Linked DNA regions of Homo sapiens: region 1 is linked to region 2. Evidence: fine-mapped expression QTL. A gene starts in region 2. The other region holds a variant in brackets. All regions are shown on one strand. Distances are between the middles of the regions. Region 1 overlaps OPN3 (opsin 3). Region 2 holds the start of OPN3 (opsin 3).

Region 1 (5,380 bases), 40 kb after region 2:
CAGTTCAATCATCTATTTTCTCTATGCCTGTAGTCAAACTGCAAGGAGGAGCTGGAAAAAAAAAAACAAAACACATCTGTCTACACTTAGATGTCCTCTCAGCCTTGTTCTACCAACCTTTCTATCCCTGTATGTGTGGTCTACTGTCTCCACACTGTGACTATTACACAGACTCATTTCTCATTTTAATTTCTCACCCTACTGTCTCCTCTCATTCTTATCAAGTAAGTCTGCTTCTGATTTATCGGACCAAACAAAGCCATTATCAAGGGTTCCTTTGACTCCTTACCTCTCTTTACACAAACCACTGATTCTTAGGACTCTCTCTTCAGTTACAGGGCGACAGGAGAGGTCTCCCAGGACCAACTCGATTCTGTATTCTGATTGCTCCCCCACCCCCTTCCATGCCCCAGAGACACTTCTTAATAATTTTCTCTTTCCCTTGTATCTTCACACTCTCCCTTACCACTGGCCCTTTCCCTTTAGCATATTACCAGGCTATTTTGTTTTTAATCACAATCTACTCTCAGCTCCCTCTAGCTATCACTTTATTTTTCTCCATTTTGTCACTGCTAACTCAAAGAACCATTGGTGACTCTTGGTGCCACAATGTCACTCACTAAGCATTCATTTACCTGATATTTATTGAGCATATCAAATATGCCAATTTCTTGCTGTTATAGACTGAATGTTTGTGTCCCTCTCAGATTCCTACGTGGAATCTCTAACCACCGATGTGACAGTATTTGGGGATGGGGCCTTGGGAGGTAATTAGGGTCAGAGGAGGTCATGAGGATGGGGCTCTGGTCTGATGGGATTAGGGGATTAGTGTCCTTGTAAGAAGAGACACCAGAAAGCTTGCTCTTTCTCTCTCTCTCTCTATCTCTATCTCTCTCTCTCTGTCTCTCTTTCTGTCTTCCCACGAGTGCATAAATAAGAGAACATGGAAGCACACAGTGAGATAACAGTCAAGAGAGGAGGCCTCAGAATGATACCTACCTTGCCAGCTACTCTACCTGGGACTTCCCAGCCTCCAGAACTGTGAGAAATACATTTCTGTTGTAGTTCAGGGAGTTGGTAGTTTAGTAAGTTTATCTAGCATTCATTCCTCAACTTAAGGCAAACTTGTGACTCCTTCCTCTACCGCACTGCCACTAATACAGCCCTCATTTCAGGTCATTGATGAGCTCCCAGATATGTGATCCCATGGACACATTTTTATTCCTTTCTAGCATCCTCAGCGTTTGAGACTATTGCCAACTTCTACTTTCTTGTGGTGGTCTCCTGCCATCGATTCTAGGGCGCCTTTCTCTGCTGTCTTTGTTGCTGACTCTCTGGCGCCATCTTCTTATCTCTTCCAAGGGCTTCTCTTCTTTGGGCCTCCCCAGCATCCTATGTTTAGCTCTTGTCCCATGCTACACACTGGCCTTGGGTGGTCTTTCATACTGCCAGGATTTCTCCTTCTGACACAAGCTTGATAACATCTCCATTTCCAGTTCAGGTCTTTCTTCCAGCCTCTAACAGATCCTCGTAGTCAATTGCCTCTTGAACACCTCCACTTGGATGGTCCACAGACTCATCAAATTTAACAAATATAAAGATTAATTTGTCATATTTTCCCTAAAATCTTCTGCTCGTCTATTTGCTTTCTCATTGAATAGTCATCATTCCTAGATACCAAGACCAGAAATTAGGGAGTAATCTTTGACTATGTGTCATCCATGTCTCCCCCAACACACAACTATTGATCAGTTCTTATCCATGCCACTTACATGTTTTTTTGTTTCGTTTTGTTTCTGTTTGTTTGTTTGTTTTGTTTTGTTTTGTTTTTTGAGACGAAGTTTTACTCTTATTGCCCAGGCTGGAGTGCAATGGCAGAATCTCGGCTCACTGCAACCTCCGCCTCACAGGTTCAAGCAATTCTCCTGCCTCAGCCTCCTGAGTAGCTGGGATTACAGGTGCCCACCACCATGCCTGGCTAATTTTTAAAATATTTTTAGTAGAGATGGGGTTTCACCATGTTGGCCAGGCTGGTTTCGAACTCCTGACCTCATGATCTGCCCGCCTTGGCCTCCCAAAGTGCTAGGATTACAGGTGTGAGCCACTGCTCCTAGCCCTATATTTTTTGGTATATCCATTTTTTCCTCTCCCACTGCCACAGACTCAGTTAAAAAAAAAAAACTTAGTTCTCCTTTTTAAAATTTTTGCTTTCCTCTATTCCATTCTTTACACACTGCCATCAGAGTAGTTGTTCTCAAGTATTACCTTCAGAAGTTCCACTGTCTTTGTGACTCAAAATAAAGCCCCTGGGTGTGGCCGGCAGGTCCTGTATGGCATCTCCTGTCTACCTGTCCAGCCTCATTTCTTGACACTCCTGTCTTCTTGCCACCTCATGATGCGGCCAATGGTAATATTTCTTGTTTTCAGAAACTGACTTTTTATTTTGCCTCTTGTCTTAGCACACTTTCTTTCTCTGGAACATTCTGTCTCTCCTCCTTACTTGACTAATTCCTCCTTCCCTCACAAGGCTAACAGCACGATTTTCTTGCTCTAACCCACCCTCAGAACCAGTTTCCCATCCTGTGTACTACCATATCCTCCCTGTTTACCTCCCTCATGGCTTCTACCCGCTCAGTGTGCATCATCCTCACCAAATAGTGAATTCCTCAAGAGCAGAGACTGGGTCTTATGTATTTTCTCACCTGTGACTGGAACAGTGTCTGCATGTAGTAGGTAATCAGTGACTATTTTTGGAATGAGTTACAAGCAGAGGGCATAGAAAGGGGAAGACAGGAGAAGGGGTGAAAGTGTGAAGAGATTTGACTTTAGCTGCTATCTAAACAGAGAGCTCACTGCAAGTAATTTGCCTCCGTTTCCTTATTCAGAGAGAGGTGACTCATAACAACGATGGAGACATAGCTACACACTTGAGAATGAAGATTCACAGTGAAATTCTTTGAAAATCTACAGATGTCTTGGATTAAGGAGCACTAGGCACCAGCCATTTATACAGCCAGAGAACAATCTGATAGAGAATTCTGAAGAATTTGTCTTAGCTGGTTCATTCTTTAGGACAAATTTGTGCCTGTGCCAATCATTTCAAAATTGCTTCATCCATAGCAATTTTGAAAACTATCCTCAAATGATTGAATAAAGAGGGTAAGACATGAAATCGAGTTTTTTA[T/AT]TTGGAAAATATTTAATGAGCAGAATGAAGGAATAGAAAGTAATGAAAGAAAGAGGCCTGAAAAAGATAAATAAAAAATAATCATGAAAACTTCACATATATAAACCCAAATAATCTAAAACATTAGTCAATATCTTCTCCTTATCCCAAAGAGGAACTGGGGATGTATAGACAAACATTTATTTAAATTAATTTCCCCAGCATGCATGTAATTCCAAGATGGATAAATGAGTGTTCTCCTTTGATAAATGGCGAGAGGGGATAAAGACTGACCTGCCCAGAAAATGGTACAGATAAAACGATTGGACCTAAATACTGGAGGTTTGGGAGGCAGATAACTGAGATGTGGTTATGTTGCTTGTTAATTGAAACTCTGAAGAGTCAATAATGATTCCAGATATCCTATAGTATCATAAATGTACATATACATACAAGTGTGTTAGTCTCATATCTAGTTCAAATATAAATAAGTATTTAACCTCAAAAACAACCCCACAAAGTCATACGTGTGGAAATGGAACTCAAGTTCTGTTAATTCTCATAGGTTTTTTTGCTTTACCTCCTTTCTTGTTTACTCTTAGAGGAGGTTGTTGACTTGCTCAATATCACACTGCGAGCAAAAGTGGTTAATCTGGGATATAAACTTAGATCTTCTAATTCCAAATCTAGACCTTTTATCAAAACCCCACAGCCTTCCTATAAACTAGGGAAGCTCCCCCAAAATGATGTTTTGAAAATAGAAAAATATTCTATCCCATTAAATAAAACAGTTTCTTTTAAAATAGAATTGCACACACAGAATAGTAGTATTCGGTTGGTGCAAAAGTAATTGCGGTTTTTGCCGTTAAAGGTAAACCTTTAAAGGTAACCTTTTTTAAAGGTAAATTATTTACCTTTCTGCACACCAAAAATATGTTCCTAAATAAAAATAGTTATCTCTGAACATTGTAATAAGTTATATGAATTTTACTACAAAAATACAAATACTTTATATATTGATTTTTTAAAGTAATTGGCATAGTGGTAAAGGAATATTATTTACCTTTAAATAAGGTGACCTTCAAAGGTTTACCTTTAATGGCAAAAACCACAATTACTTTTGCACCAAACTAATACCAGAAATTTAATACCCACTTTTCCCTGCACATAGTCTCTCTACCCTAAAAAAATCAATGATTTAAATTTTTCCTATTTCTCTCTATTCTTTGCTAATCTGAATACATGATTTTGATAAGAATATAATTTCTTAAATATAATTTTGGATATCAGTAATTTGAGAATTTTAATTAAAATATATTTCTAAATAATCTAAGCACATGTTCTAAATGATTTCTTTGGAAATTCTTTCTCTTAATTTTTATGATAATGCTAGAACCAAAAGGTACACTTAGAGTTCATTGAAATGCAGTAAATTTCCAGGCATAAAGTAATCAATACTAAGTATTAACTATATGCTAACTACTTAAAAAATCAATATATAGAGTATTTGTATTTTTGTAGTATAATTCATATAACTTATTACAATGTTTAGAGAGAACTATTTTGATTTAGGAACACATTTTTGGTGTGCAGAAATATTCTTTGCCTGTGTATTATTATGACACATATATAATAATAGGAGAAACAGCAAAAAGAAACATATTCAAGAAACTCAAAGAACTTTCAGGCTGTACATCATTACTCCTCCATCCCTTTAATGGGAACAGACTGCGAGTAGACAGGCTGGTTTTAGAGGAAGGAGTTGTTTTACCAAGTGCTGTTCTCTGCAAGTGATCCCCTAATGAAGCCAATCACAAACAAATTTCTCCTGAAATTCTACTTTACAGTCATTAGCAGTGAATTGAAAAGCTGGTTTTCAGTAAGAATTCACTTGGGAATTAAGTGCTCATCAAGGCCAGCTGCAGGCTTAATCATGCAGAACACCTGACATGACATGGGTGTGCAGTCTGATTTGAGAACTGGAGGACTAACACTCTATAGAGTTTCCAGGATCACAGGGAAATTCTTTGCATTTTATCGTGACTCTCTCAGGCTGTCTTTTAGAGACTTGAAGATCTAGGCAAAATAATGTTATTCTTATTAAGTAAATAAGAGAACGTCAAAAAAAACACTGAAGGATGTAGGAGGCTCTGTAGCTCAACCACCCTATGTTGTAAGTGGGGAGACTGAGGCCCGGCAAGGTTAAAGCTGGACTCA
Region 2 (5,380 bases):
TATTCCATTGGTCTACATGTTTGTCCTTATGCTGTGTATTAGGCTGTTCTTGCACTGCTGTAAATACCTGAGACTGGGTAATTTATAAAGAAAAGCGATTTAATTGGCTCACAGTTCTGCAGGCTGTACAGGAAGCATGGTGTTGGCATCTACTCAGCTTCTGGGGAGGCCTCAGGGAGCTTTTACTCATGGTGGAAGGCAAAGTGAGAGCAGGCATCTCACATGGCGACAACCAGATAGGGAGAGAGAGAGAGAGAGAGTGGGATGGCGGAGTTGCCACACACTTTTAGATGACCAGAGCTCACTTATCACAAAGGGGATGGCCCAGGCCATTCATGAGGGATCCGCCCCCTATGACCAAAACACCTACCACTAGGACCCACCTCTAATATTGGGGATTATATTTCAACATGAGATTTGGGTGGGGACAAACATCCAAACTATATCATGCTGGTGTTTTTCATTTGTTTGTTTTTTGTTTTTTTTTTTAATAAAAGATTGTAGTGTTCTGCCATTATCCTGTCATTACATAATTCTAAAATTAAAAAAGAAACATATATCCTTATCATTGCCTGTTTCTGTCAAGCTCAATAAATGTCCTTAATGGTTCATAGTATTGTAAAATTACTGTGTCAAAAATGCTTAAGCATTTGTCAAAGGCCTCTTACTCCTCCTTTGCATTCACTGCTAGTAGGCATTGCCCTGGACTTTACTCTGATTGAGTAAAAGCCAAAGTCCTTTTATTGAAATGGCCAAGGTCCTGCATATTCTGGCCATTCACTGCACACCCACCTGACTGGCTGCATTTCCCGATTCTCATTCTTGCTTCCTTATTGTTCCTCCAACATACCAATACAGTACTCCTGCCCATAACCACCTTGTCTAAATAACAACCTTGACAGAGCAGGTGCATCACCATCATGGACAAGCACTGCCATTTTAAAGTTCCCCTTGATCAAAAACCACCTAAATCCAAACAGCATCAGCCTAATGGCTAAGGTCAGCATGACCATACACCACAAATGACATCTCCGACCAGAAACATTCCAACCCTAAGATAAACCCCTCCCTGACCAGAGACATGCGAGCCCCGAGATAACCTCCCCTCCGACAGAGACATTCCAACTTGGCAATAAACTTCTTCTCCAAACAGAAACATTCCACGCCTGTGATAAGCTCTCTCACTCTAAAATCCTTAAATACTCTTAGTCTGTAAGAGAGTGCTCCTGACCGAAATCGGCCAGAAGCCCCTCTTAGGTTTATTCTTCCAAATAACACTGTCTGACTGTTGAGCTGCTATTAGTGTTTCTTTCCTCTTTCTTTAACTCTTACAAACTCCTTGCCCCATCTCCCATAGCTCCTGGCTCAACCTCCTGAGTAGCTGGGACCACAGACATGTACCATCTTGCCTGGCTAATTTTCTATTTTTTGAAGAGTTAGGGGGCAGTTCTCACTTTGTTGCCCAGGCTGGTCTTGAACTCCTGGGCTTAAGAAATCCTACTGCCTCGGCCTCCCAAAGTGCTGGGGTTACAGGAATGAGCCACCACGCCTGACCCCTATTTCTTCATGGCATTTGTCAGTGGCTGACACCCTACGTATTTATCTAATTTTTGTTTGTTCTCCCAACACGACTGGAATGTGAGCTTTATAAGGGCAATGACTCAGCAATGAAGAATGAATAGGAAAAAATATAGCGAGTTCTTTATTCATTCATTCAAATTACTATTTATTGAGAACTTACTGTAGACTAGACACAGAAAACACTTTCGACATTAAACATATAGAACTTGTTAAATAGTTATGTTTTGTTCAGTGGTTGTACAAATCTAAAATTAACAATTAAAAGTGTGTGTGTGTTTTTTAAGGGGTGGGTGGGTAGGAAGTCTCACAGATGGCGAGTCCAGAGCAGAAGCCTTGAAGGAAAATCAAGGTGTCAAAGGCAGAGCACACTGCCCCTTAGCTATTGCTCAGTGCACCAGGGTGGAGAGCTGCTGCCAGCCTATTAGATCCTCTCTCCAGGGAATTCAGAATGTGGATTGATCCAAGCTAGTCATTCCCTACTGATCTTTCAAACAGAGGTGAGGCACGCCCGTATGGAGAGCAGTTTCTTTAGCTTGCACAAACCCTGTGTTCGTCACCAGTGTCCAGGACAGGCTGCAGGTGTGGCTGGGGACTGTGATCTTCTTGTAGGGCCTCCTTAGGGATTGTGCAACCACAAAGGCAGAAGCAGCTCTTGCAGAGTGTGATGACGTTCACAACCTATATTTGACTTGTACTATATTCTCATCACTACAGGAGAAGAGGCCCAATGGGAAATGTGTGCTGTTCTAAATATAGCACCTGCCTCCTATACCTGCTAGATTTAGGTTGAATCTTTCACTGCCTGTGAAGGACTTTAGCAGGCCTCAGTGACCGGAAAGATCTACCCACGCTTTCAAGCACAGGAAGGACGGTATTGGAAGGCCTTGGGGTCCAGCCCAGGGCTTAAAGTCAGTTCCATTGGAATGCCATTTTCAGAGAGTTTTCATCCCAGACTCTCCAAGGGTGGCAGGCTCTTGTATCAGCCCTGGGACATGTGTCCTCTAGCAGTCAGGTAGTTAGGCAGGCACCTGTCTATCAATTTGTTGTTTTTCTTCTCAGTTTTCCGGTAAGACTACCCCGAGCTCTTCAATGTTTTCTTTGCTTTTGTTTACATTGAGTGTATGACGCGGGATGGGCTTCGTAGGCTGGTTGTGGGTTATTACAGCTTCCCAGGAAGGGGAGAAACCCAATTCTTGCCAGCACGTGGTGGGCGCAGGCGCTCATAAATACTTAGGAATAAATGAATGTATAAGTGAGTGCATGAATGGGTGAGTGGACACGAAGCTTTCAAGGTGGGTGCAGGGAGGTGGGGGTGTGAAGAGCCATCGAGGCTACCCTGCGGCCCTGGCCCCCAGGCTATCCCGCGACGCGCGTCCACGCCGACCAGCGGAAGGTGCCCAGCCAGTGGGGGCGGGGCGAGCTAGCCGCGAGGACGCGCCCGCGGGGGGGCGGGGCTAAGAGGACGCGCCGGGAGCAGCGGAGCGACGAGGACAGGCCGCGGGGAGGGGCGGGGCCACGGGGGGTGCGCCGGGCGGAAGGGGCGGGAAGAGGGCGGGCCCGGCGCGCGGTAGCGCGGGCCCCTCAGTGCACAATGGCTAGAGCAGGCGGCGGAGCCCCAACCCCACCCAGTGCGGAGCGCGCCGCGAGCCCCGCCGCAAGCTGAGCGCCTCCGCCCGCCAGGCGCGCCGGCGCCGGGCCATGTACTCGGGGAACCGCAGCGGCGGCCACGGCTACTGGGACGGCGGCGGGGCCGCGGGCGCTGAGGGGCCGGCGCCGGCGGGGACACTGAGCCCCGCGCCCCTCTTCAGCCCCGGCACCTACGAGCGCCTGGCGCTGCTGCTGGGCTCCATTGGGCTGCTGGGCGTCGGCAACAACCTGCTGGTGCTCGTCCTCTACTACAAGTTCCAGCGGCTCCGCACTCCCACTCACCTCCTCCTGGTCAACATCAGCCTCAGCGACCTGCTGGTGTCCCTCTTCGGGGTCACCTTTACCTTCGTGTCCTGCCTGAGGAACGGCTGGGTGTGGGACACCGTGGGCTGCGTGTGGGACGGGTTTAGCGGCAGCCTCTTCGGTGAGTTGGACTGGGAGAAGGCAGCCTCCCCTCTGCAAACTTCCACTCCCCACCCCGCTGCCCGCTCCGTGCGTCCGCCCCCCAGCCCGCCCCGCACCGCTTCCCGCTCGGCCCCGCGCCCCCCGCCCTACACCGCCCCGCTCCCCGCTCGCCTCCTCAACGCTGCCCGACCCCAGCCGCATGGCGGGTGCCTTCCTCTTCCTCCGTCCCCTCCCGCCCCACGCTGTCCAGGACTCCATTCCTGTGGTCTCTCATCTGCCCCCCACGTTGACCCCAAACCCCGGCCCGCCTCCTTTCTTATTTGTTTTTACCTCCTAAGATCACTCAACAAGGCACGAAACCACGGCTTTTTACACTTTGAGGAAAGAGACGAGGGCCTGTAGAGTCAAGAGATTCAAGAAAAAAAGTGATTAACTCGTGAAAGTTGGAGGGAGTGATGAGATTAGATTCATGTACTACTATTTGTTTCCTAAAATGAGAGTAGAAAACCAAAATAACAATGTGTAAAAAAAAATTCTCATTAGTACTTGTAAACCTTTGAATGCTTTCTAGGGAATGAGACAGTTTCATTCAGGTCCTCAGAATGCAAATTGGCATGTGCCCTGTAAGCTGTTTTTACTATTTTCCGTCTTATAGATGGGTTCCAGCACACCAGAATCTTGGGTGAGATTACAAATGGCTCAGCCAATACCATCTCAGGTGAACAAATACTGTAATTAGCTCTGCAATCGGTAGATTTCATTAAAGTAGAACTTCATTGTTGAAGATGTATTTCGACAGTACTCTTATTATGGAAGATTTAAGTTTCACTGAGACATGATGTTTTGAAGGATGATCAACAACTCAGCAAATCATTGAAGGAAGCGTAGAAAGGAAATTATTTTTTTGTGTGCCTCAGGAATTTCATTTGTAGGGAGATTTGAAATAGAAATGTGTATTTCTCAAGGCTTAAAGTTCCTTTTTTAAATCCTGAAATCCATTGATACTTTATTGCTTTAATCTTGGTAGGTTTGGGAGAACAAAAATCTTTGTAGAATTATCAAAAATATTTTCTTATTCAGTAACCTCTATGCTATGACAAACCCAAATATTATATTTGTAATGATTCATTTTTTGGCGTTTTGAAGGAAATAAGAAAATAGATTTTATTTGATTGCTTCAGAGGTTATAATATTTTCCTCCCCGCCCCTCATAAGCTTTAATCTGATAATTTCATTTGAACAAACATTTGAAATTTAGGGAGGGGACTGCAAGTGTATGTAGGCTGTGGTATGGACGACTATGGGATTACACTCCTTATATTAATTGTAAAATACCTATCAGGCAGTTTCTTCGGCAATGCTAAGAAGGTTATTCAAGCCCAAGCCTAAAGTATCATCAGTAGTGTTCTCCAGGGTAGTCAACAGGTGTTTGTTCACAGACATCAAAGTTCTTTTTTCCTTGAAGTGCCTTTTCTGTGCTGGAAAATTCTGTTTTCGTGCCCGGGAGTTTGAACACAAGGGTGTACTGAGTTCTTTATAAGTGCTAGCTGTCATCCACCCTCTTCCTCACCTCTTTCCTCTGCTGATCCCACCCTCCTGTGTCTCCTGGTCACTTCTCCCTTCCTGTTTTTCTTCTTCACCATCCCTCCTAGGGTCCCAGCCCAGTGATTTTCTAAGTTCACTTAGATTTTTGCCTGAGGGCTGCCCTATTTTTCAGGGCATTTAGTGCTTTCAACCATGACTTTCT

What was found. PIP is the estimated chance that this variant, and not a neighbour inherited with it, causes the effect.
Region 1: its variant is the best candidate, but not a certain one, in a credible set for the expression of OPN3 in testis (GTEx, PIP 0.75).

What each region holds. Positions count from the first base shown.
Region 1 is chr1:241,598,159-241,603,538 of GRCh38, reverse strand. All of the region lies in intron 2 of OPN3 (opsin 3), which reads left to right. Among named protein-coding and RNA genes, the nearest start is that of CHML, 40 kb to the left of the region's middle. The variant T/AT (reference allele first, on the strand shown) is at 3,185.
Region 2 is chr1:241,638,154-241,643,533 of GRCh38, reverse strand. OPN3 (opsin 3) reads left to right here and starts at 3,165. Exons shown (of 4, transcript NM_014322.3): 1 at 3,165-3,652. The coding sequence starts at 3,280. CHML (CHM like Rab escort protein) reads left to right here and starts at 3,165. Exons shown (of 2, transcript NM_001381853.1): 1 at 3,165-3,652. RefSeq lists silencers at 2,836-3,415, 3,746-3,795 and enhancers at 2,898-3,467, 3,468-4,038.